Linked DNA regions of Homo sapiens. The protein of the gene in region 4 purifies or fractionates together with the protein of the main gene of each other region. This does not show direct contact. Each region holds a gene or a part of one and is shown on either strand. Other genes may lie near its edges.

Region 1 (6,863 bases), on a different chromosome or scaffold from region 4:
AAGTCCTGCCATCCTCCATAGCCATCCTTGGAGAGGCCACAGGTGGTCCACAAGGTCAACTTCCACTCGATATTGGCAGACAGGGACTCTCCGCTGGTGATCTCAGCCGTGGCCTGGGTCCTCCTGGGAGGGGAAGTCACCGGGGCCAGATGGAAGGACTCTTGGGAAGGGAGGCCCAGACCCACCCACCCCAGCTCTGCAGGAAAAGGATACCTACGACTGTCGCCCCTGCTGGCCTTACACTTTGCCCCAGGCCTTTTCCCTCTATTGGTTTTTCCAATTTTCACACCAGCCAGGCCAGGGAAGCCTGCAAGTCCATCTTCCTCCTTGCTGGGGCCAGTCCTCTCTGCCCACAGAGCCACTTCCTTGCTCCAAGCTCCAGGCTCTGGCACCTCCTTCCCATCCCCTCACCCATTTTTCAGCCTGGGACAGGACAGTCTTTCTTTTTTTTTTTTTTGAGACAGGGTCTCCCTTTGTCACCCAGACTGGAGTGCAGTGGCACAGTCACAGCTCACTGCAGCCTCTACCCCCGGGGCTCAAGTGATCTTCCCACTTCAGCCTCCTGATTAGCTGGGACTACAGGCATGTGCCACCATGCCCAGCTAATTTTTGTATTTTTTTGTAGAGACTGAGTCTTGCCATGTTGCCCAGGCTGGTCTCAAACTCCTGGACTCAAGTGATACTCCTTCTTTGGCTTACCAAAGTGCTGGGATTACAGGCATGAGCCACCATTCCCAGCCGAGAGGGCAGTCTTAAAGCTAACAGTTGGCTGGGTACGGTGGCTCACACCTGTAATCCCAGCACTTTGGGAGGCCGAGACGAGTAGATCACAAGGTCAGCAGATCGAGACCATCCTGGCTAACATGGTGAAACCCCGTCTCTACTAAAAATACAAAAAAATTAGCCGGGCATGGTGGTGGGCACCTGTAGTCCCAGCTACTTGGGAGGCTGAGGTGGGAGAATGGCATGAACCCGGGAGGCAGAGCTTGCAGAGAGCCGAGATCGCGCCACTGCACTCCAGCCTGGGTGACAGAGCGAAACTCCATCTCAAAAAAAAAAAAAAAAAAAAGTTAACAGTTAGGCCGGGCCCTGCCAGGCCCAGCCACAGTGGCAGCAGGGGCAGCAGCAGCAGCAGTGGCAACGGGGGCTCCTGCCTGTAATCCCAGCACTTTGGGAGGCCGAGGCAGGTGGAACTGAGGTCAGGTGTTCAAGACCAGCCTGGCCAACATGGTGAAACCCTGTCTCTACTAAAAATACAAAAAATTAGCTGGGTGTGGTGGCACATGACTGTGATCCTAGCTACTTGGGAGACTGAGGCAGGAGAATCACTTGAACCTGGAAGGCAGAGGTTCCAGTGAGCCGAGATTGCGCCACTGCACTCCAGCCTGGGCAACACGAGTGATACTCCATCTCAAAAAAAAAAAAAAAGGCTAACAGGTAAGGCCCTGGTCCCAAGCCCCCTCAGTCCATGGGAGAACCAGGGGCTCTCTGTACCCAGGGTCAGTCCTTTGAAGTCTAAATACCAACTCACTGCAGCAATGCATCCAACAGCTTGGTGACATTGGAGGAATAATGGAGGACGATCACTGGCCTGAGCAGAAGCTGGGATATGTCCAGCTGCAGGGAGACAAGGAGGTCAGCAGGCCTGGGTCCCCCTTTCCCCAGCTTGCTTACCCTCACGGCCTGGTCCGATTTACCTCTCGGACCACGTTGTGGTTCAGGATGAGAAGAAGCAGGGCAGAGGCACCCAGGAAGAGGGCCCGCCGCATCTGCAGAGGGATAGAAGGCGAGAGGCTAGCATATACCCTGCCTGCACACCTGTCTCACCACCTGCAGCCCTAGCTGCTCTTAGCTCCTGGCCCTGCAGTGAGCAAAACTCTGGACAGACTGCCATAAGCTCCTTGAGGTCAAAGGTGGAAACTGCTTTCTTCCTCCTGCCTCCCTTCCAGATGCGCTGTGCCTTCCCCGGTCCTATCAGGGCAGTCCCAGCAGTGGTCGTCAGCAGCAGCTCCCCCATCCCATACTCTCAGAGCCTGGTCAAGCTTCTCAACCTCTCTCTGGCCTCCTCTCACCTCCCTGCTTCGAAGCCATACTGACTCCATTCTTCAAACTGGGGTGCCCTGACCCACCAGGCCTAGGGCTTCTCTGCAAGCTCTTAAGGGCCCATCTAAGGAGGGCCTGGCTCTAGCAGATGCCTTGGAATCCTTTCCTCCAGCCCCCTCCCCCATAGACATCCCCTGCACCTGCTGGACCAGGGCCTTGGGATAGGCCTGCGGGCCACTGCCCTTATTCTCCTGGTGGAACTGGGCCGCCTGCTCCTTGCCCACGTATGCCACTGCAATCCAGCCTTCCACTGGTGCCTCCTGCTCGGCATCCACGATGTCCATCTGTGTGGCAAGGGGCCATGAGCAGAGGGAGGTAGGGTGTGGTGGGGGAGGGAGCCGGGGTCATCACAGTGGATGCCAAGGCCAGAGTTCCCAGAGCATCTGGCTCTCTGGTTTGGGAAGCCGGAATGCTGGGGGCCTGGGGAGCCTGGGGAGGGGCGCTGGACTCTCAAGGCTTGGTGGAGGATGAACGTCGGTTCAGGGTGCGGGGTCTCTAGGGAGGGTTGAGAGAGGGGTTTAGTGATGCGGCCAGATGGCTCAGCAGCGCTCACCAGCAGCAGACGACCGCCCAGCAGGGGCGCCGGGTCGGCTTCGGAGCCGATCCTGACGCCCTCCAGGACCAGAGCGTCCTGGCGCGGCAGTCTCACGTCCACCCGCACGGCGCGGGCTCCGCCCCGCCCCGCCCCGGCCGCCGGCTCGCTGCCGTCCGCCGCGGCCCCGGGCCCCGCCAGGCCCAGCCACAGCGGCAGCAGGGGCAGCAGCAGCAGCAGCGGAGACGGAGGCGGCGGCGGAGGCGGCGGCGGCGATCTCAGCGCGGGGCGAGCGGCGGGGCCCATGGCCGGACCCGGCGAGCTGGCCCAACAGTGGGGCCAGGGGTCCCGGGCGCGGGGGGGATCGGAGGGAGCGAGGCCGCTGCCGGACGGGGCGGGGCGCCGGGAGGGGCGGGGCCGCGGCCGGACGGGGCGGGGCACCAGGAGGAACGGAGTGGGCGCTTGGCGGCTCTCGCGCCCAGACTGGGCCGCGGGCGCCCCCTGGTGGCCGCGGAGAGCTCAGGTGCCCGCGGCTGAGGGAGCTGGAGAGGGGCAAAACCGGGGTCGCAGCGGGAAGGCGGAAAGTCAGAGAGAGGAGGTGCTTCGGCAGCGGACGCGTCAGCGGGGCAGACAGGAAAATAGTTGGAAAGGGCGACCTGGGGGAGCAGAGACACGATCAGAGCCTGAGAAGGGCAGGAGCAAGGGATGTCTAAGGGGCCTGGTGGCAGGCCCTTGTTCTGCGGCAGCCCCGTGGACCCACGGGGTGGCCAGGGCCAAGTCACATCCCTCTCTTCCCCGGTCCTCCCTGTCTCGACCCCACTAAACAGCAGGAGGCAGAGAACCAGAGACTGGCGTGGGAAGCCGACAGGGGAGATAGAGGGGCAGGGGAAAGGGGCTGGGGGGCAAGGCAAAACGAAGCAGGCAGGGACTCAGTGCCTCAGTGGGACCGAGAGGCTGGGTCACTTCCCTCATCTGTGAAATGGGCACCATAGGCCGGGCGCGGTGGCTCACGCCTGTAATCCCAGCACTTTGGGAGGCCGAGGCGGGCGGATCACCTGAGGTCGGGAGTTCGAGACCCGCCTGACCAACATGGAGAAACCCCGTCTCTACTAAAAATACAAAATTAGCCGGGCGTGGTGGCGCATGCCTGTAATTCCAGCTACTCAGGAGGCTGAGGCAGGAGAATCGCTTGAACCCGGGAGGCGGAGGTTGCGGCGAGCCGAGATCGCGCCATTGGAATCCAGCCTGGGCGACAAGAGTGAAACTCCGTCTCTAAATAAATAAATAAATAAATAAGCACCATGTACAATCAACACTGCCTCACCCCCAGCAAATAACTCAAATGTCTACTGGAATGTGGAAGTTCCACTACTGTTCTAAAACTTGTCCGTTTCTCCAAGGGTTGGGGCTGCTGGGAGCTGGCTCAGTCTGAAACCTGAGCCTTTAAAAATTGTATGGTGGGCAGGGCGCGGTGGGTCACGCCTGTAATCCCAGCACTTTGGGAGGCTGAGGCAGGCGGATCATGAGGTTAGCAGATCGAAACCATCGTGGCTAACAAGGTGAAACCCCGTCTCTACTAAAAATGCAAAAAAATAGCCGGGCATGTTGGGAGGCGCCTGTAGTCCCAGCTACTCGGGAGGCTGAGGCAGCAGAATGGCGTGAACCCGGGAGGCGGAGCTTGCAGTGACCTGAGATGGTGCCACTGCACTCCAACCTGGGCCAGATGAGCCACAACACTCTTTTTTCTCCAGAAAAATTGAAAGAATTTTACAGTGAACACCTGTAGGAACACTGATATGGGATGACCAAGTTGCTCCTGAAGAAGTGTGAGACGGGTATATAAGACAGCCCCCGATATCAGCCTAAAGACAGACAAATGGAACATGAAATAGGCCAGAAACTGACCCACACATCTAAAGATGGTGTACATCAGAGGAAACATTGTGTTTGTGGAGATACAAGGAGGCAGTAGCATGGACTGTTTGGTAAATTGTGCTAAGAAATTGAATTAACCATTAGGAGAAGAAATTAGACCCCTATTACATACACATCATATACAAAATATGAATTCCATATAGATTAAAGACCTAAATAAGAAAAGTAAAAGTTTAAGCATTAAAAAATTATTTATGCATTTATTTTTGAGACAGGGTCTCTCTCTGTTGCCCAGGCTGGAATGCAATGGTGCCTTCTCAGCTCATTGCAACCTCCAGGGTCAACTGATTCTCCCACCTCAGCCTCCAAAGTAGCTGAGACCACAGGGGTGTGTCACCATGCCCAGCTAATTTTTTTTTTTTTTTTTTTTTTTTTTGTAGAGACAGGGTTTCACCATGTTGCCCACGCTGGTCTTGAACTCCTGGGCTCAAGGGAACTGCCTGCCTCAGCCTCCCAAAGTGCTGGGCTTACAGGCAATAGCCACTGCACGTAGCTAGATTCTCTGTTCTGTTCCATTGGTCTATAGTAGTCTCCCCTTACCTGAGGTTTTAGTTACCTTCAGCCAACCGAGGTCCAAAAAAATATTAAATGGAAAATTCCAGAAATAAACAGTTCATAAGTTTTAAATTGCATGCTGTTCTGAGTAGCATGATGAAATCTCTTGCCCTTCCTCTCCATCCCTCCCTGGATATGAATCCTCCCCACGCTGTAAATGTTACCACCTGTTAGTCACTTAGTAGGCCTCAGAGTTATCAGATTGAAGAAACACAGTATGTTTTCAGCACTACCTGAGGTTTCCGGCATCCACTGAGGATCTTGGAATGTATCGCCCAAGGATAAAGGATCACTAATTGGATATGTTACTAACGTTTTTTCATATGTGGGAAAGCACTCTTCATAAGCTACAAAATGCACTGTGGAAGCCCCGTGGTGCCCGTGAAGAGGCTTGCTTCTCCATTTCTGTGACTGTCCCAGCCCATCTGTCAGCCCCAACAACAGGGTTGCAAGGATGCACCCTGTAATCAGCCAGGTCTTTGGCTCCATGTTCTGCCTGCCCTGTCCCCACTTTCTCCCTACCCTTCACCCCACTGACCTAGTCACCCCTCAACATACACACTCCAACCAGATGCAGGTCCTTGTTCACGCTTGTCCCCCACCTAGAACACAGTTCTGCTTCCCTACAAATATCCACATCCTAGCCTTCCATCAGTGGGAGCCGGAGCCCCCTTGCAAACTTGGTGGGTAACCAGTTCCCTGTGGTGTGTTCTTCCATGGGGTAACCCCTGGTTATCGCAGAAGGAACAAGAGCTGGAGGATGTTACCTCAACGTGGGTGGGTGTAGCTCAGCCCAGCCAGGGGCCTTCTGCTGCTTTGGGGTGAGGAGGGTTAGGGGGTGGGTAAAGAAACAGTAAAGATTGGAGCCAATGCTGGCGGGGGGCAGAGTGCAGTGTAAGCCCAGGAAGTGAGGCAGCCAAGGGTGGGAGATTGACTGCAAGGAGACGAGTGACCTTGAGGCCCTGCCTGGGAGTGGAGTATCTGAGGAGAAGGGGACTGGAGGACCCCAGAAGCGGGGGAAGGGATGCCAGCTAAGAGACATGCAGGCACCCTGCTCCCAGGGATGGACAACAGGACCCTCAGCCCTGTGGGCTCTCTCTGGAGTAGCCCAACCCGCAGATCCAAACTCCCAAGAGAGGGTGGGGAGCTAGAGCGGACAGGACTGTCACTCTCTCACCATGGGCCTCTGGGCAAGCCACTTCCGTTTTCTTGGCCTGTGTCCTCAGTTGTAAAATGGGAGCTTGGACTAAATGACTTGGGAGGGCCTTTCATCAGACATGCTGTGATTCCAAGTAGCTTGTTTCTTGGGATACAAGGTTTCCTGGCCCTGGGCTGGGCAGAGACCTGCATGGAGAAGGCCCCAATTCCTCTGTCTCTCCTTATTCTGTAAAGTTGCAGGGGGACCTAGGAAGAAACAAAGCTACTAATGAAAGTGTGAGGCATGGAATATGTTACCTCAGCAGTGGAAGGGGGTGGTGATGAGGATGAAATGTTTTAGAATTGGTACCAGGAATGGGGTGTATGACAAGGCCCTTGAATTCCGTGAACCTGAGCCCTCTGCTTCTCTTCCTTTGCTGTGAAATGAGTTATTTGGTCACACACCAGGCTGTGCAAATGCCAAAAAAAAGGCATTCCGTGAGTACACAGATGGTGGTGCTGGCAGAAGGATGAAGGGCAGGGAAGGCAAATCCACATCTAGAATATGTGTCTATTCCAGTGAGCATGAACCTGGGCCCCA
Region 2 (3,526 bases), about 32 Mb from region 4:
CTCTATGGAACACTATTGTTTCTTACCCTGCTCTAATACCTACCTGCTACTGCCCAATGCTTAGTTCAAGCATCCTCTACTCCCGGAATCTAAGGGGTTAAGTTGGGTGCTCTTTCTCTTACAAAAGACCTCCATGCTTACCTCTGTTCTTACACTATACAGTATTATAATGGCTAGTTTGCTTCTATGTTTCTGTGAGTTCCTTGTGCATTCCTTGAGCTGGGGTCTGTGTTCATGGTCCCTATAAGGCTCACCATCTAGCCAGAATGTGTGGCATATAGTAAATGCTCAGTAAACATTTGTTATCTAAAACAAATATATTTCTTGTCCTAATACTTTCCAGAGAAATAGTTGCTCCTATCCAGTTCTTTCTAGTCCTGAATTTCTCCCTCTTCTCCCATTCCAATCCCTGCATCTTGAATATATTAATAGCAGCTTCAAAATAACCATGTCATTCCAGGGCAATGTGGAATATATCCTTTACTTCTCTTTTACCTTTTCTTTTCTTCTTCTTTTTTTTTTTTTTTTGTAACATATCTAATAATGCATGTCCTGAAGGAATTTTCCTTTTTTTCTTTTCTTTTCTTTTTCTTTTTCTTTCTTTCTTTCTTCTTTTTTTTTTTTTTTTTTGAGACAGTTTTGCTCTTGTTGCCCAGGCTGGAGTGCAATGGCACGATCTCGGCTCACTGCAACCTCCGCCTGCTGAGTTCAAGTGATTCTCCTGCCTCAGCTTCCCGAGTAGCTGGGATTACAGGCATGTGCCACCACGCTCGCCTAATTTTGTATTTTTAGTAGAGACAAGATTTCTCCATGTTGGTGAGGCTGGTCTTGAACTCCTGACCTCAGGTGATCTGCCCGCCTTGGCCTCCCAAAATGTTGAGATTACAGGTGTGAGCCACCGTGCCTGACCTCTGAAGGAATTTTCTAATGAGGAAAAAAAATTTATAACTATTGTTATTCTTTTGGAGGTTAAAGTTTTACCTTAGTGGTATTATCCTTTACCATCTGGTAAAATTTGTGCTTAGATTTTTGAGTTTTGAAGTGTTTTCATTTTATTTTATTTGGTCCATTTTAGGCATTGTGTGGCTGCTCAATTAATGTACCAACACTGGATGGAAGAAACATACCTATGTCAGTAAATGATATTGTGAAACCCGGAATGAGGAGAAGAATTATTGGATATGGGCTGCCATTTCCAAAAAATCCTGACCAACGTGGTGACCTTCTAATAGAATTTGAGGTGTCCTTCCCAGATACTATATCTTCTTCATCCAAAGAAGTACTTAGGAAACATCTTCCTGCCTCATAGAATGAAGAACTTTGTTACACATATTTTGATAAGGCACTGAAAATATAAAAGGACTGGTAGTTTACTGATGTAGATGTGAATTCTGTATAAAGATGTGTAAATTCTTTTGAGGGTTCATTAAATTGCATGAATAGAGACGGGTCAAATAAATAGGCAAAAGGGATTTTTACAGTTAGAGATAAAAGAGAAAACCATTCACTGTATTTTATTTCATTTCTCCTGATTCAGATATTTTTAGTAATTTGCTTATATGTAAAAGTTGTTTTTGTGGAGTCAGTGGATATATTTCTAATGAAGTGCTAGACTATCCAATTACTTAATTTCTTATACCTTTAGATAATCAGTATGAAAAGTTCCCATTTATAATGGAAATGAAAATTCTTAACTAAACTATACATGTAATATGTATTTCTAGAAGAGAATAAAAACCCAAGTCAGTTATTAGATTTAAATCACCTTCTGAAATGCTGCTATAGGGCTGGTATCTGTAAAAGAATATCCTGATGCATCTGTTTCACCATTTTGATTTTTAAAGTATGCTGTAGCATTTCTTAATAACATCGTTGTGATGTTCTTAAGGCAGATCTTTCTTCATAAAAAGGAAAGTAATGGCAATTTCTCTCCTGTGGAAATCCCAATTGCTTGAATTACTGATATTTTAGAATAGACTTTTTAAAATGCCATATGTAATTTTATGCAAGTTGACTATATATCTTGTACTTAATAAATTATAGGCTCATTTTGTTCTCTGCTAGTTTAAAGTAATTCGTTTAATAATAGATGTGTTTTTAGAGGAAATGCTGTTACTTGGAATTAATTTTCCAGTTATACAGTCTTCTATAACTTACTAATAATATTCTATATGTACTTTATGTAATTTCCCTAAAAAGAATGAACTACCACTACACTATGGTGTTAAACCAAAATATAGGGAAAATAAACACTAACTGCTGCTTATGGATAATGTTGCAACTACTTGTTATGCATATAAATATTTTACTTTTTCACATGTATAGATTGCATTTCTTAGGTGTTTTAATTTTTTAAATATATTTATGTTTTAAAAATTTAGTTTTGTTTTCTGTTTTATAACTATAGTGAGAATGATGTTTTGAAGCAAAATTTTTGGTTATAAAATAGTTTTCAGGATTATATATATATATACTGGATCCTATCGCCTTTTAGTAGAATATGAAATATTCTTTTAGAAATCCAATATAAATAGGTTATAATAGCCATATTCTTTATTACTTTATTGAGATATAATTTACATGCCATAAAGTTTACCCTTAAAATATATAATTCAGTGGTTTTTAGTGATATTTACAAAGTGGTACAATCATCATCACTTTCTAATTCCAGAATATTTTCATCACCCCAAAAAGAAATCCTAAATCCATTAGCAGTTACTTCCCATTCTTCCCTTCCTCCAGCCCCTGAAAACACTACCATCTACTTTTCATCTGTATGGATTTGTCTGTTCTGGACATTTCACATAAATAGACTCAAACAATATATGGCTTTTTTTTTTTTTGGTCTGGCCTCTTTCATTTAGCTTAATGTTTTCAAGGTTCATCTATGTTGTATCACGTATCAGTACTTTATTTTTTGTGTGGCACGTCATATGGATATACCACAATTTGTTTATCTTTTCATTAATTATGGGCATTTGGCTTATTTCTACTTTTTTGGCTATTATAAATAATGCTGCTGTGAACATTTGTGTGCAAGTTTTTGTGTTTCAATTCTCATGGGTATATACCTAAAAGTGGAATTTCTGGGAGTAACCATATATTTGAGTTGCAAATGGAAAATGCTTGAAAAAAATGCCACAGAATTCAGCTAATCGTATTTATTACTCTAATTCATAAATGATTCCTCTATAACTGTCTCTCTGAATGACAGTTAAAACTCCCTACAGAAGTGTGAACATTACAGAAATTTTCTCACAAGTCTAAAGATCTAGATCTGAAAAGCATCAGTCAACGTGGTGAATGATAGTGGTTTCTGTTTTAAACCCATCATTATTTATTGCAATTTTCTTGATTAAGCATTTTCTCCCAGGTAAAATAAATGATTTATAGATAGATATATAATAATCTTTGGATTAAAAAGTTTTTTTAAGCAGAGAATTATTATTCTAGTAGTAAATAAATTTACATAACTACACAAAACCAGTATACCAGTATCTCTCTTATCTTAAAGGATATTGACAAT
Region 3 (7,329 bases), on a different chromosome or scaffold from region 4:
CTTACATTACCACATATTTACCCACGTATATTATTTGTCAGACTCCCACTGAAATCTAAGTTCCATGAGTACACTGCTGCATTCCCATGTCTGGAAGAGTATCTGGTACTTAACAGACCCCAACTGTCACCTGTAAATGAATGTATGAACGAATCAAAACCAAGAATGGACTAATTGAAGGTCTCTTATTTCAGGAATATTTCTTATTCTTTTAAAAAAAACAAACAAAAAAACTGATTTTACAGTTAAGATACAAAATCCTGTAAGCCCTTTCACTGAAAATGCTCCTTAAGGTGCCTTTCAGTTCTCAGCCAAAACTTGGCTTAGCTTACTTCTTCCTTTTAATTACTAATCATTTTTCTTTTAGCAACTATGACACAGGATACTTCTGAATCACATCAGCAATTTAAACACAGGACTTGCAGAAACAAGGAAATGTGGCAACATTATAGTCTGTACTAGTAGGCACGGTCATCAAGTCAAACAATTTAGCTATACATTTTCCTTCCCTACTGGAAGATAAAGATACTTGCTTTAAAAGAATCACCTGGCTGTACATCAATCCACCACGTTGCTTAATGCCTTTATGTCCACTTTTGCTTCACCTATTTTTTTCCCCAAGCAAAACTGGTTGCATTGGTTTAGGCATGGATTGTGTCATCTCCTAACAGTCTCATGATTTCTATTGGTCTGCTGAGTTCTTTAGCAAGTTCCATAAATGTCAGTCTCTGAATATATCAAACTTTACCCTATAGGGCAAATCATCATTTGGTGATGACAGGCTACTGCGTCATCATGTTCCTTGCGGGCTGCAGGAAAGATGATAGGGCAATCAGAGATCAGCCTGTAAGCGTTACTGTCTGGCCTATGCCTTCCCTTTCTGACAAAACCCTGCACTTAAATTTACCAATCTGACAAAGATGTATGCCTCTCTAGAGCACACAGGTAATTTATTGAACAGAGAATAAAACTTTTGTTTTCTTCCCTTCATACCAATACTCTTAAATCATTCTTCTCACATCTTTAAAGAAATTCCAATGCTTTCAAGATCTGATTGAAAATCAAACCTGACATCCCAAACCTGAGTATTCCTCAACTTATCTCCTACCTATTCTTCAAGGTCCTGCTTAAATCCCACCTCCACTGCATGAACTTCTCAAGTTCCTTCATTCACAATTTCTCTCCTCTCTTCTCACAATAGTAATTTTACTCTCAACACTTCTTGTTATTAACCATGTCAAATATGTGAGTGTGTGCCTACCTCCTAACAAGCCTGAGAGTCCATGGAATTAAATGCAAGATTCCAAGGAATATGCCTAGCACAGTGCTTTAGGTTTGTAGCTACCCAATAAGTACTGAATTTTTGTACTTACAAAAACTCCCTATGGTGAAATTCATTCCCTCAATCAAAACATATGAGAGGACAATTCTATCAAGTACTGTGTTGGGCACTGATGATGAAGGATCACAAACCATCCCAGCCTTCCAAGACAGAAAGGGACCATTTTCTTTTCTGCCTATCCAATCTCTCACATATTTTTCATAAACCCAGTTCAAATACCACCTGACCCCCACCGCTCCCATTTGCAGTACCTATCACACAGCCCATGCCTAAGTCCTCTATAGCCTCACTGCGACTTAAGAACAGCGCCTGGAAGCTCTCTTAAAGAAACAGTGTGGTGTAACCAAAGGCAAAGATTGTGAAAAAGCACAGAATGGCTAAAATTCCAATATCCTCATTCCGATCTTTGTGGCCCCATTACGATCTTGTGGCCTTGGGCAAATCAGTTAATGTTTTTAAACCTTGGCAAGGGTATACAAATACCATCTACATTACTGCAGTATTATAACGAATAAGAGATTTTTTATTTATTTTTATTTATTTATTTACTTATTTGAGACAGAGTTTCGCTCTTGTTGCCCAGGCTGGAGTGCAGTGGCGCGATCTCGGCTCACCACAACCTCCGCCTCCCGGGTTCCAGCGATTCTCCTGCCTCAGCCTCCCTAGTAGCTGGGATTACAGGCATATGCCACCACGCCCGACTAAACTTGTATTTTTAGTAGAAACGGGGTTTCTCCATGTTAGTCAGGCTGGTCTCGAACTCCCGACCTCAGGTGATCCGTCCGCCTCGGCCTCCCAAAGTGCTGGGATTACAGGCATGAGCCACCGCGCCCGGCCAAGGGATATTTTTAAAATGTTAAAAAGCTACTGAGTCAAATCCAGAGAATTAGTAGGTGTTCAATAAAGCTGATCTCCCTTCCTCGAAAGCGCTAGCGCTGTGATTTGCAGAGAGGCCGCGGCAACTCGTGCCATGGGCACCACCCGCCAGACCAGCGGTCTAGCGGTCCAAGACGCCTCGGCCACCCCCCACCACCGCACCGGGCCTCACCTTGGTGGTCGTAGACGCTAATGTAGGAGATGCCCACGGCCATACACCACACCACGAGGCTCGCGATGTCCGAGAAGCTGGGTTCCTGCTCCACCTCGGTGATCACCAGGCCCATATGCACAGGCAGCTTCTCCAAGGAACGACCGTCCGCGCGCCAGCGCATCCGGTGGTGTGCGGCTGCCAGGCACGACCCCCCGCGCGGGTGCCGGTGGTGACGGCGGTTCCTGCCGACTGCCGGGGGCTTGCGGAGCGTGAAGCCGAGCGGCGCTAGGACCGCGGCAGAGGCGGCGCGGCAGCAGCGCCGCCAGATCCAGTTCCAGGTGCCGAACCGAACGCGGAGCCAGGAGGTGAGCGTGCGGTGCAGACAGAGCAGCGCGTGCAGCACCCGCCACACCAGCTCGTACAGCCCCGTCATACTCTTGTGGCCCTCAGACACCCCCTCTCCCTCCCGCCCACTCCCGCAGCGCGACGGCTTTTTATCCGCCCCTGCGGCCGGCGCGGGCCATCGCTCCGCGTCCCCCCGCCCCCCGAGCCCGAACCCCTTTCCACTGCCAACACCTCACCTCGCCCCCGCCGCCATCTTCCTCCTCCCTTGGCAGCCCCGCCCCCAGTAGTACATGGACAGTTCCGATTGGCCAGCGTGGAATTCTGACGCGGCTTCTGGGTCCGAGAACGTGGCCCGTTCCGGCGCAGTGAGGGAAGGCGCACGCCTGCGAACTAGCCGGGCCGATACCGCGGGCGCCCCCTGGTCGCGTGGAGGGCGATGAGCGAACGACCCGGGACTTGTCTGAATGGGACCCCAGCAAGGCACACGTGGTCTTCAATGCGATGGGCGCTTCCAGGGGACCCGGCGTCCCTTGGGTCCAGGAAGTCTTATACTGTCTCCTCTCACGGCCCCGACAGAAACGGTTTCTGAGGAGTAGAAGTGTCCTAAGTGGATTGGAAATTACAAATGCCGGAAAGAACCTAGGGATGGAAAGCAGCCCTCAGTAAGTGTTGATGCTGGGAATCCACCAGGGTTTCCAAAAGTGTCCTCAAAGGCTGGAGTGATCCTGCTACTGTCCTTTATTCAGCCTCCCGGCTGAGGCTGGGAGCGAGGCTCTTTAGCCATGTTCCTGAAACACCCCTCTACCCATGTCATTCTCATCTAAGGTATCCTTTCCTGGCTGTACATTGCTTAATAGAGGCTCTACAGCTTGGCAGTCCAGTCACTTAATTCTTTTTTTTTTTTTTTTTTTTTATTCGGCAAGACTTTGACCAACCGCCGTGGGTTAGGTTTACAGTGGGGAAAAAAAATAGAAATTGTGCCTGACTTCAATGACCGCCACTATTTGAAGCAAACTGCCCATCCAAGCCTTATCATCCCCTTTAACACCCTAATGTTTCTGTCCATGTGGACTTCGACGTGGTCCTCTAGAATGGTTTTGTACTTCCCCGCGGTAAGTCTGTACTGTCTTTGCCCTTTTTGTTCAAGCTCTTCTCCTGAATTCCTGATTCCCGACTTGGTATTGCCGACATTCCAACCCATTTCTCAAGGTTTATCCTACATGCTACATCCTCTATCATCATATATATGTGTGTGTGCAACAATAATATTTATATTATTTGCATTTATATTTATATAAGTATATATATAAAGATTAGGGAGGTATTACAAAAATGCAACTGTACACATACACACGTATACACACATATTTACACACGTGTGTGTGTGTAAACAGTTGCGTTTTTGTAATACCTACCTATTCTTTGTTCGCTAAAGCCTCTTTTTCCCCCTGGGAAACATCTGTTCACGTCTTGGCTATGTGACTTAATTTTTCTAACATTGTCACTTTTTCAACTAGTCTCATTTTGGTTTCTAAGACTCATTTAACTTTACTTTAAAAGTTGAATCTCATGTCCATCTCCCTTTCGCAGTGCAATTTTCCTCCCTTTGGCAGTGCAGCCTGAAGAACTGAGGGCTGGGCACCAGGCACACCCTTCACACACTTCTTTCTCTCCAGGTCTCCTCTGCGGTAGCTCCTCTGATGATGGACAAAGAAGGAGAGGCGAAAGGCCATGATCAGGGAAGCCTACAGTCTTCTTCCTCACTGCCCATTGCTGTAGTTTATGCAGCTACATGATGCTTGTTAAGGAAGCTCCCTAGACACCAGTGTCCCATTGAGATTTGGCCACGTATTCTGCAGACCCCACCCCACCCCCCATGCCGACTATGTTGCCACATTTCTCTACCGTACTCATTTCTTTGCCCCAATGTCTATCCGTTCTGACAAGATTAAAGACATCAATCTCATGTTCCCGTGGCCTGCTCTCAGGTGTGCAGGCACAAACAGGCTCTATCTTCTGTATTTCTTTTTTCCTTTTTTTTTGAAACGGAGTCTCGCTCAGTCGCCCAGGCTGGAGGGCAGTGGTGCGATCTCAGCTCACTGCAGGCTCCGCCTCCCGGGTTCACGCCGTTCTCCTGCCTCAGCCTCCCGAATAGCTGGGACTACAGGTGCCCGCCACTACGCCCGGCTAATTTTTTGTGTGTTTTTAGTAGAGGCGGGGTTTCACCATGTTGGTCTTGAACTCCTGACCTCAGGTGATCCGCCCGCCTTGGCCTCCCAAAGTGCTGGGATTACAGGCGTGAGCCACTGCGTCCGGCCCCTGTATTTCTTTGAATTGCAAACTTAAGCAAAAGGATTCTAGCCACATGTCCATCTGACACACTCACATGCAGATCCTGGCGTCTCTCCCCAGACATTTGCTTGCTTTCCTCCTAGAGTTTCCTCCTAGTAGCAGGTCCCCTAGCTCCCAGGATGTTCAGCCTCCTAAAGAGTGGTGGGGCGGCGGTACCCACTTTTCTTCTCTGTCAGCTGTCAGTAGGCTAGGGATGGAGGGTCTCATACAGAACAGTTCTCTGGGGGCCTTGAACCAACACAGTTCTTCCCCTTTTCTCACTTGTAGTTCTCGAGAATAACTGTAGAATGTGTTGGAATGCAATATACTATAGACAAGGAGGAACTGACCAGAACAGCCCAGGCTCTGTTCCAGTCTCTTCTAGAAATAGGATGTCCTTCAACTAGTACTAGCCCAGCACATCCCATTGCCCTGTAGTAAAAACTGAGAGCAGACTGCTTTCTGGGGTCCCTTAGTTGCGGTGCAAGCAGTGCACGAGCAGATGAGACGCCATCCTCCCTAAGAAGTTTTCCTCGGCCTTGGGAGATATGGTCATTATGACATGCTTCTGTTGTCCCTTGCTGCCTGTCTGTAAGTAATAAACCCACTTCGTGTAACTTGTGTGTGAGTGTTCTGCGTCACTGGACACTGGATATAGGAAAAGTGCAGTCCAAAATGCAGTGGGCTGAACCGGTAACCAGTGCACAGTGAACCTGCTTTGCATCTGGTGGTTGCTGTCAACTTCAGGCTGCTTCACTGTTCTTAGAAGGAGGTGGACTCAGTGCCTTTTGTTCTCAGCCACAATTCTGGAATAACAGGAAAGCCACACTGGATGTCTTGCTCTGGACATACTTGGAATCTTAAGTTTATGGAGTTCTCTCTCTTCTAAAGATTTTCTTCTTTTGTCATTTCAAAAAAGCAGTAAATGTGGCACATTTAGGAACTTAGGGGTTCTGAATATAATGTTTGGATTTCTTAAATACCATTTAACCTTCCACCCCAAAATTTTATGAAGCACAGGAAAATACAGAAAGAGTTATCCAGCCTCAGACTCTTAAGCCCAAAACACTATGGGGATGGTATTTCATTTACTTTTCAGTTTACAAAATGCTTTACATTATCTTAATCCTTACGACCACTGCTACTTTTACTGTCTCCATAGTTTTACCTTTTCCAGAATGTTACACAGTTGGAATCACACAGTATGTAGCCTTTTCTTATTGCCTTATGTCACTTACTAATATGCATTTAAGCTTGTCCATGTCTTTTCATGATTTCATACCTCATTTCTTTTTAGTGCTGAATAATATCCCATTGCTGGATGTACCACATTCCATTGCTGATGTACCACAGAATTTATCTGTTCACCTACTGAAGGACAACTTGGTGGCTTCCAAGTTTTAGCAATTATAAATAAAACTGCTATAAATATCAATGTGCAGGTTTTGTGTAGATATAGGTTTTCAACTTATTTGGATAAGTACCAAGGAGAAGGCCAGGCATGGCTGACTCCTATAATCCCAGCACTTTGGGAGGCCAAAGCAGACTGAGCGCTTGAGCTCAGGAATTTGAGACCAGCCTGGGCAACATGGTGAAAACCTGACTCTACCAAAAATACAAAAAATTAGCTGGGCATGGTGGCATGTGCCTGTGGTCCCAGCTACTTGGGAGGCTGAGGTGGGAGGATTGCTTGAGCCCGGGAGGTTGAGGTTGCAGTGAGCTGAGATCACACCACTGGATTCCTGCCTCGGTGACAGAGTGAGACCCCATCTCTGAAAAAAAAAGAAAAAAAATACCAAGGACCACAATTGCTGAATCATACAGCGAGAGTGTGTTCAGTTTTGCAAGAAACTGCCAAAATGTCTTCCAAAGTGTCTATACTATTTTGCATTTCCACCAGCAACAAATGAGTTCATATTGTTCCACATCCTTGCCAGCATTTTGTGTTGTTAGTGTTTTGGATTTCAGTTGTAGTGTTTTGAATTTTGGCTGTTCTAATAGGCGTATAGCAGTATTTCATTGTTTGAATTTGCAATTCCCTAATGATTTATGATGTTGGTATCTTTCTGTATGCTTATTTGCCATCTGTCCATCTTCTTTGTTGAGGTGTCTGTTCATTTCTGTTAAAACCCCATTTTAAAATGAGGTCGTTTGTTTTCTCATTGTTGAGTTTTAAGAGTTCTTTGTACATTTTGGATAATAGTCCTTTATCAGATATGTCTTTTGCAAGTATTTTCTCCCAGTCTGTGGCTGGTCTTCTCATTCTCTTGGCAGTATCTTT
Region 4 (7,450 bases):
CAGTCCCCAGACCCAACAAGTTACATTGCTCTTTCCTGTCTCCCAGACAGACTCCAGCCAGGCTTTAGGCTGCTGACCATGAGATCCGACACCAGCCCCCAGAGTTTTCTTTCTTTAAAGAATCTAAAGCCATCCTTCAGGGATTTTTTTTTTTTTTTTTTTTTTTTTTTAGCTGTCGAAGCATAATGGGGGAAGCACCTCCCCCGTTCTCCCCTTTCACCTAAAGGAGTTAGGGAAACTGGATTTACTTGGGGAGGAGGCGGTAGGTCTTGCCTAAATCAACCTGTGCTTCCCCCTTCCCTCATACACCCATTTCAAGCAGTAACCTGAACCAGGGCTTTCTGGAAAGACAGTTTGTGCTGCAGCAGAAAGAAAAGAAGCGGCAACAAAAATCTGGTATCATCACCAGGAAGCCTGTGGCTGGCCACTGGCCGTGGGAGCCTGCAGAGCCTAGAACGCTAGGCCCTTCGTGTTTAATTCTCCTCTCACCCCAGCTGAGGCCAGGACATCCCAGGTGTGCAGGAAGCCTCAGGGGCATGGTATCCTCCCTGGCAGAAAGAATGCCTTTCTTAAACCTGGAAAGGAGGCCGGATTGTGGTCTCAGCTTTGCCTCTTCTGAGCTTAAGATGCTGAAGCCTATATCCTCCTCTCTGAAGTGCATAGTTGTGAGCACACTGAGCTGCTGGGAGGATGTAAATGAGGTGGCACGGCATGGAAGCATCTAACAAAACCCACCCTAGTTTCCTTCCTCTCAACCCTGCCTGCCCCCATCAGAAGACCAAATTCCAGCTCTTCCAGGACCGTAGTCCTGTGTGGAGTGGAGGGCAGCTGAAGATAGGGCAGCCTGTGCAGACCAAAGAAGGGGGTGGAGGAGCTGAGCTGGGCACCCCACTCACTGGAGGGGATGCGGCAAAGCAGGCAGCTGGGACTGGGTCCAAGTAGTAAGTCAAGTGTGTGCAATCTCCTGATGGAGCGTGCAGGGGAGAGGGTGGGAGTGTGTAATTCCCCTGCGAGCCACGGAGGGGGGTTGAGAGGAAGGCGGGAACAATCTGCGGTGGTAAGGTAAGTCAGGCTCGGTCCCTGCTCCTCCCGGCCCCTACCCACCACCCACCACGGACCCCTTGCAGACCCAAGATGGGGAGACACGGGCTCCTGCCACTCACCCTAGCGGCCCGGGAGGAGTAGGGATCCTCGAAGAGCGCCCACATGCGGGGCTGCCAGCCGCGGCAGCCCCCAGACCCGGCGCCATGGCCCGCGCCTCCCTCGTGGGGGCCCAGTCGCTGCAGGGCCAGCTCCCGCTCATCGTCGCCGGCCTCGTCGCTGGGCCCCGCGCCGCTGCCGCCTCCGTCCGGGCTCTCGAAGATGTCGAGCGCCTCCTCGGCGTCGCGGTGCTGCCGGTAGGTCATCCAGCAGCAGGGTTCCACGTCGGTCTCGTCGATGCCCCAGAAGGTGAGCTCCTCTTCGAAGAGCGGCCCGCACACGTCCGCGGGGCAGTGCAGCTTGCCGGTGCGGTAGTAGTTGAGCACGTAGGCGAAGACGCCCGGGTGCCTGTCGAAGAAGAACTCGCAGCCCCCGCCGCCGCTGCTGCCGCTGCTACCCACACCGCCGCCATCGGTCTCGGGCCGGCCCCCGCCGTCGGGGTCGGCCAGCCAGGCGAGGCGGGTTCCCGGTAGGGTGCGCAGGGTGCTGCGGTAGGTCTCATGTCGCGTGCCGCCCACGTTGATGATGATCTTCTCCGACGCCTCGCCCTTGGCCATCTCCTCCTTCAGACATGTTTTGGACGGAGGCTTGTTCCCCGACTTGCGCCCGCGGTAGGAGGAGACACACACCGAGCTGATCATAAGAAGCGCTGCGGGGCTCCGGCTTGGGGCGGCCGCTGCCCTCCAAACACCCTTCCCGAGGAGGCAGCGTCAGACGGGGGAGGGGGAGGAGACGAAGAGGAGGCAGGAGGCGGTGGCGGCCCCCTCTGCGGCTTGGGCTTGCCCCTGCCTATCCCCCTAGGACGCGGAGCGGGAGGAGTTGGATTTCTCCGGTACACAGGTGGTTGGGGTTAGGGCAGGAAGCTCCGGAGAGAGGGAGGCGCAGAGAGGGAGGACCCGGGGAAGTAGAAGCAAGCACACACGCGGTCCCCCGCTACGACGGGACACACAAACGCTCTGGGCCGGGGACACGCCCCCGCCTTCACCCCGACCAAAGACGAGGAAGCGCACAGTCCACGCGCACCGCGAAGGTCCGGGGCGCTCGCGCTCACACGGGCCACCCTCCGGCTCCAAGACCGCACCAAGCCCCGGAATAGCCGGCTTCCCCGCAGCGGCGGCAGCGCAGCAGCAACAAGTCCTCCGAGCGGCTGCCGGGGCCAGGCCGACACTCTCACGGCAGCCGGAGCTCCGTGGGCCCGGGCTGCTTGCGGTCAACACGAGGCGGCGGCGGCGGCATGTGGCCTCTTCCCCCCATTCATAAATCCAGCGCCGGGCGAGGAAGGCAGGCGGGGCAGAGCAGAGAGCGGCGGCCGGGCGGGCGGGGGCTGCGCAGGGCGAGGCGGCAGCTGGAAAACAAGCGCGCCCGCAGGAGCGAGCCTCGGGTCCTGCGTCCGCGGCTGGGAGCTGCGCCGGACCGGGCGCAGCGCTGCGGGGGCCGCGCTGGGGCGGGGGTGCCTCAGACGGGGCGTCCTGCGCGGCGCCGAGCCTGGGGGGCGGGGCCGCTCTGGGGAGCCGGGCTCTGGGCACTGGCGAAGGTGTACCGGGGGCGGCGGCCGAGCGGCCAAGGACACCTGCAGGCTTCCCGGGCCGCGCGGAGAGGGAGCCTCAGCGCAACGCCCCGGCGCCTGGTTCCTGCGATCTGGCGGCGCTGGGAGCCACGCCATCTACGCGTCTGCCCATCTCCGGGCGGGGCGCCGGCCTTGGCTCGCGCGCGGCAGGGGGCGGGCGCGAGGTGGCATAGGGGAGGGGGCGCCTCGGCGCCGGTGGGCTGGGGCCCTAGGGGCTCATGGTCTCCCTCCGGCGCTGGCAGCGGCCGCCACGCCCCAGTGGCGCCTTTTCCTCCGGGGCCCCGCCTCGCCCAGACGCGCCCTTCGCGGGGCGGGGTGGGCGGGGCGCGGCGCAGCGCGGGGCCGATCCGACTCACTGCAGGCCCTGGCGACCGAGCGCAGTCTTCCTCCCCGGAGCCGAGCCCCAACCAAGCGCGTCACCTCCTCGCCGCCAGTGCCCAGCCCAGCGCGCCGCCCCTGCGCGCTTCCGCCGGCAACCCCTCCCGCCCCCCTCAGCCCTGCTCCGCGCCTCCCCCGGGCCCGCAGCTCCTCCCACCGCAGCCCGCTGACACCGAAGCGCTCTCGACCCCTGACCTCTAACCTCCGCCCGGCTCTTCTTGCTTCGTCCCTCGCCCCCTCCCCGCCAAGCTGGTCGCACTGTTGCCGTTTCACTGCGGCTGACGGAAGGCCAAGGAAGAAAGAGGGTAGAGACGCTGTCGCGAGGATCAGGCTGCCCTCTCCTTTCCCAGGGACCGTGTTGGGGCCTTCTGACCACCCCGCCCCGCATCCTGCGCCTCGGAGGCCCAACGTAGCCCAAGACACCCATGGTCTTGATGCTCTCCGCCTCTGTCCCAGCCACCAAAGTCCCCGCGATGGAATGGAGGACGGGGTGGCCTTGGGCAGAGAAGCGCTTCTTGTGCCGGATGGAAGGAAACCGTAGCTCTGGCTGTGTTCATCGCGAAATGTTTTATGGATGTGGAGTGGGTGGGTGGCCCTGAAAAGTCATTAGTTAAAGCCTTTGCTCGTCATTGCTCTGGGGTCCACATAGGAAATGCCCGTGTCCTGCCTCATGACCCCTTCCTGTTTCTACTCTTATTCTACCCATTACAATTTGACTTTGCCTGTGTATATGTCTCCTCTCCCCTCCCTAACCCTGAGCTCCTGCAGGCGGCATTGTGCTTTTTCATCTTGATAGCTCCCACAGTGCCTGCCTCTGAGAACCTGTTTGCTAAGTGATTGAGAAGCTGCCATACCCAAAACGTAGGCACCAACAGGACTTTACTGGCCCTATCCCAAGAGCAATTTCCAGATTCATTTGTTTTTGTTAAGTCCAGAACCTATTTTACATCTTCATATTAATCCCCATTGGGTTTTTTTTTCTTTTTTACAGCTTCAGGCAGCCTCCATGCCTGTCTGGATGATGTAAAGAGATCTTGAGGCAGAAATGAAAGGTGAATGACACACCTGCCCTGGACACCTGTGCACCTTCCCAGTTCCAGATCAGGCAGTACCTAGCTCAACTGAGAAAAACAAGACAAGGGCCTATGTGTGTCTCAGGAAAGGTTAAAAGCTCAGTGCCAATGCAAGGGATTTTTACAAGCAAAAGTCTCATTATTAATGAGGCCAGAAAACCAAAATGACAATGATCTTTGATGATCTGTACTGACACGCAGGGGAGGTGAGTTAATCAGAAACACACATTTACTGGCACCCCCTTTGTGCCCAGTCCCTGCTCCTCGAAACTGATGTTTGTATTTCAGAGTTTAGCTGTCTTTGAGTTTGCTGCAGTGAAAAGAAATATCCCAAGTGTGACTGGGAAGAGAAGACCCGGGACAGGCCAGAAACTGGAGTGAGGAAGAAAGAACCACAGAATATTAATGTAATGAATAACTTTCAAGTCCTATCTGGTCCGTGTCCTGGCAAAGTCCCTTGGGGTCTCTCCCCTGCTTTCCGTTCATCAGGATGACTGAGCTCAGTAATTGTAACAAAGGGAGTGTAGTAGGCAAGGGGACAAAACCCATAGTATCCCACCCCTGATTGACTTATTAACTCAATGAACACTTATTGAATACCTACGATATGCCAGAAGCAGTTCCGGGTACTGGAAATACATCAGTGAATAAAACAGCCACTCATCCTAGTAAATCTGCCCAACTGGTGCTTCCACTCTGCGGTGCTTGTGGATAGTGATGAGCACCTGGGGAGATGGGTAAAGGGAGAAAGCTGCCAGGGAAAAAGGAGGCCAAGAGGGAAGGGAGGAAGATCAGAAAGTTGGGACACAGGCATAGGAACCTAGGAAGAGCTGACAAAAACAGAGGGCCCAGCCTGAGAGAGGCAGCTGGGTAAAGGTGCATGGGGCCAGGACTCCCAGCTCTGTGCACTGACCAGCTCGGGAGAGGGGAGCTCAGCCTCAGTCCTGAGGCCTCCAGAGAATGCCTCACCCTTGCTGAAGGTTTATTCTAGAACTCTGGGCTCACCTGTTACGTGTACCTCTCTGAGGGAGTCGATATGCTGCAGTTAGCACTATGGGACTTGTCCCCATCATTTCTTTGTGTGAGGTCTTGGTGTTCCCTCAAAACACAGAGCCGGGGAAGGATAGGAGAGCCCCCTGCCCAGGCTACTGTGACACAGCCTACCATGGATGTGAGGGTGCTGCCCTCTGGTGGTGCTAGAACATCCTGGCTCCAGACCTCGCCCTGAGCTCTGGGGGCTGTGATGTGGGCAGATGGGGTGGCAGCTGATTCTGGGCTTCCTGTTGATTCCAGGACCTCAGGTACATCTTCTAGCCTAACTCTGCCATTGGGACTCTGCCTACTCCCTCCCTTCTTCATTCCTCCAAGACCTTGATACCTGACAGGCTTAAGCAAGACCACAAAGCAGCCACTATTGGAAATTCCTAGTTCCCCAAGCTTCTTTCCCTCATTTTCACCTTTTCTCTTTTGTCCTCTCCTTAGTGCCCTGGCTTCTTCAGGCTGTCAGGGAAGAGCACCTGTCTGAAAGCCAGTTCACAGAAGGTGTCAGCCACAGCGGGTTTCCCTCATCAGGGGTGAGGGTGTGGTGAAAGAATAGGAAGAGAGGGCCATGGGAGATTCTAAAGGGGCACCGATGGAGGCTGTCAAGCACCTGCACCCTTTCCAGGCCCCCCCTCCACCCGCATAATAAGGTCCTCACCCTCTGAGTGCCGACGCTGACCCTGTCCGTAGGAAGCTGAAAGCCTGAAATCAAAGCCGTTTACCCTTCCCCTTTCCCCACTGGGAGCTTTGTATGGGCTCAGCCTCTTTAGGATGACTGGAGCCATCCAATCTCCTCTCCATCTTCCTTCTTTGAAACCTGTTTGTGGTGAGGGGCTCCAGGCCAAGGCAAGGTTCTATCCATTGGTGCTCACACTTTCCCTTTTTGGTATTCTAGCTCCTGCCAGGGACTGACCCTCCTTCAGGTCCAGGCCAAGGAGCCAGCATCCTTTCCCAGCATGCCTCACTCTCTCCCAGCCTGGAAAATTGAATTGCTTTATCAGACTCATTAGAGGGTGATAGGGCCTCCCCGCTCATGGGGGAACAAGAGAAGGGAAGGCAAGAGCAGGCTGGCAGCCTCCTGTCTGCGTCTCAGCTCACTTCATCCTGCCTCCCCCAACCCCAAGCAGCCTGCAGAGACTTGCAGGCTCCAAATCAAATGTGAGAGCCTTCTTTGGGGGGAGGGGGGTTGGTGGGGGAGGGGCTCTGGGGAGAACCTAGCCCTAGTAATTCAGGTCTTGTGAAGATCAGTAGAATGGCTCTGCCTCAGGACTGAAAGCAGGGTTGGGTTGCTGTGGTAATCCCAGTGAAGTTGTATCTGGGGCTCAAAGGTGGCCTTTGAAGGCCCAGCTCTTAAAGAGAAGAGATCAGAAGCTCGGGCCTGGGCAGGGCTCAGGGCCTCATACACTATGGACCTGGAGTCATAGGGTTGGAGGGGACCTGAGTGTTAGCTCATGGACACCTTCCCCCCGCTTAGGGATGTCAGGCCTAAGCAGCAGCAGCGAACTCTGAGAGACGGAGCTAGGGCTGGTGTTGGGCCAAGGACAGAGAACGATACGGGGGCCACCAGCTGAGTGGACCCTAGAGGCCTCCTTGTTTAAGGCTCCTGGGCTGGGAACTCAGCCTGCATCCAGACAGCACACTCCCGCCACCGCGCCTGCCACATGCACGCTAGCCCAGGGTCCGGCTGGCAAGACCTCTTGACACTTAGCATTTCTCCATCTAGAAAAGTAGAGATTGCTCCCACCTGGGCTAAGTTCCAGGAAAAACTGGTTCATTCCATTAGAGGAGTTAATTAGTCCTGATGGGCCCAGTCCCCTCCAGCAATATCCTGGGGAAAGGGGAAGCAGGTGTCTGGAGAGACAGGCCAAACTCAGGTTCCTCTTGGGTGCTCCTGAAGTCCAGGGATTCTTCCCTGCTTGGGTCAGCCCTGGGCAGAATGGAGGGACCCAGAACCCAGGCAGCTCAGACCCAGGGACAGAGAGCAGATCCCCACTGAGTCTTTATGCTCTGCAGCCAGGACTGTGCCTGGCATGGATCAATCTTTGTAAGGGTTTGTGGTTGAATGACAGGCATAGTCTTCTCCCATCTCAAGGTTTCTTCCCACCTAAGATGATGTAATTAAAGAATGCAGCAGCGTGCCTGGCACCAGTGAGTGTGCCAGGAAGGGAGATGCCCAAGTCAGATTGTGACT

Evidence for each region.
Region 1: the proteins of KCNC4 (region 4) and RNF215 purify together in Homo sapiens (affinity purification with mass spectrometry; 2 studies listed by BioGRID and IntAct, with this or other methods). This does not show direct contact.
Region 2: the proteins of KCNC4 (region 4) and DNAJB4 purify together in Homo sapiens (affinity purification with mass spectrometry; 2 studies listed by BioGRID and IntAct, with this or other methods). This does not show direct contact.
Region 3: the proteins of KCNC4 (region 4) and NUS1 purify together in Homo sapiens (affinity purification with mass spectrometry; 2 studies listed by BioGRID and IntAct, with this or other methods). This does not show direct contact.

The regions. Positions count from the first base shown.
Region 1 is NC_000022.11:30,384,373-30,391,235, forward strand, and holds the start of RNF215 (RING finger protein 215 precursor), read right to left. Parts: upstream 3,040-6,863; 5' UTR 2,942-3,039; coding exon 2,657-2,941; intron 2,388-2,656; coding exon 2,244-2,387; intron 1,770-2,243; coding exon 1,698-1,769; intron 1,618-1,697; coding exon 1,532-1,617; intron 124-1,531; coding exon 1-123.
Region 2 is NC_000001.11:78,014,939-78,018,464, forward strand, and holds the end of DNAJB4 (dnaJ homolog subfamily B member 4), read left to right. Parts: intron 1-1,075; coding exon 1,076-1,309; 3' UTR 1,310-3,026; downstream 3,027-3,526. UniProt on the Homo sapiens protein: Probable chaperone. Stimulates ATP hydrolysis and the folding of unfolded proteins mediated by HSPA1A/B (in vitro).
Region 3 is NC_000006.12:117,671,147-117,678,475, reverse strand, and holds the start of NUS1 (dehydrodolichyl diphosphate synthase complex subunit NUS1), read right to left. Parts: upstream 3,008-7,329; 5' UTR 2,806-3,007; coding exon 2,391-2,805; intron 1-2,390. UniProt on the Homo sapiens protein: With DHDDS, forms the dehydrodolichyl diphosphate synthase (DDS) complex, an essential component of the dolichol monophosphate (Dol-P) biosynthetic machinery.
Region 4 is NC_000001.11:110,205,891-110,213,340, reverse strand, and holds the start of KCNC4 (voltage-gated potassium channel KCNC4), read right to left. Parts: upstream 3,028-7,450; 5' UTR 1,842-3,027; coding exon 1,164-1,841; intron 1-1,163. UniProt on the Homo sapiens protein: Voltage-gated potassium channel that opens in response to the voltage difference across the membrane, forming a potassium-selective channel through which potassium ions pass in accordance with their electrochemical gradient.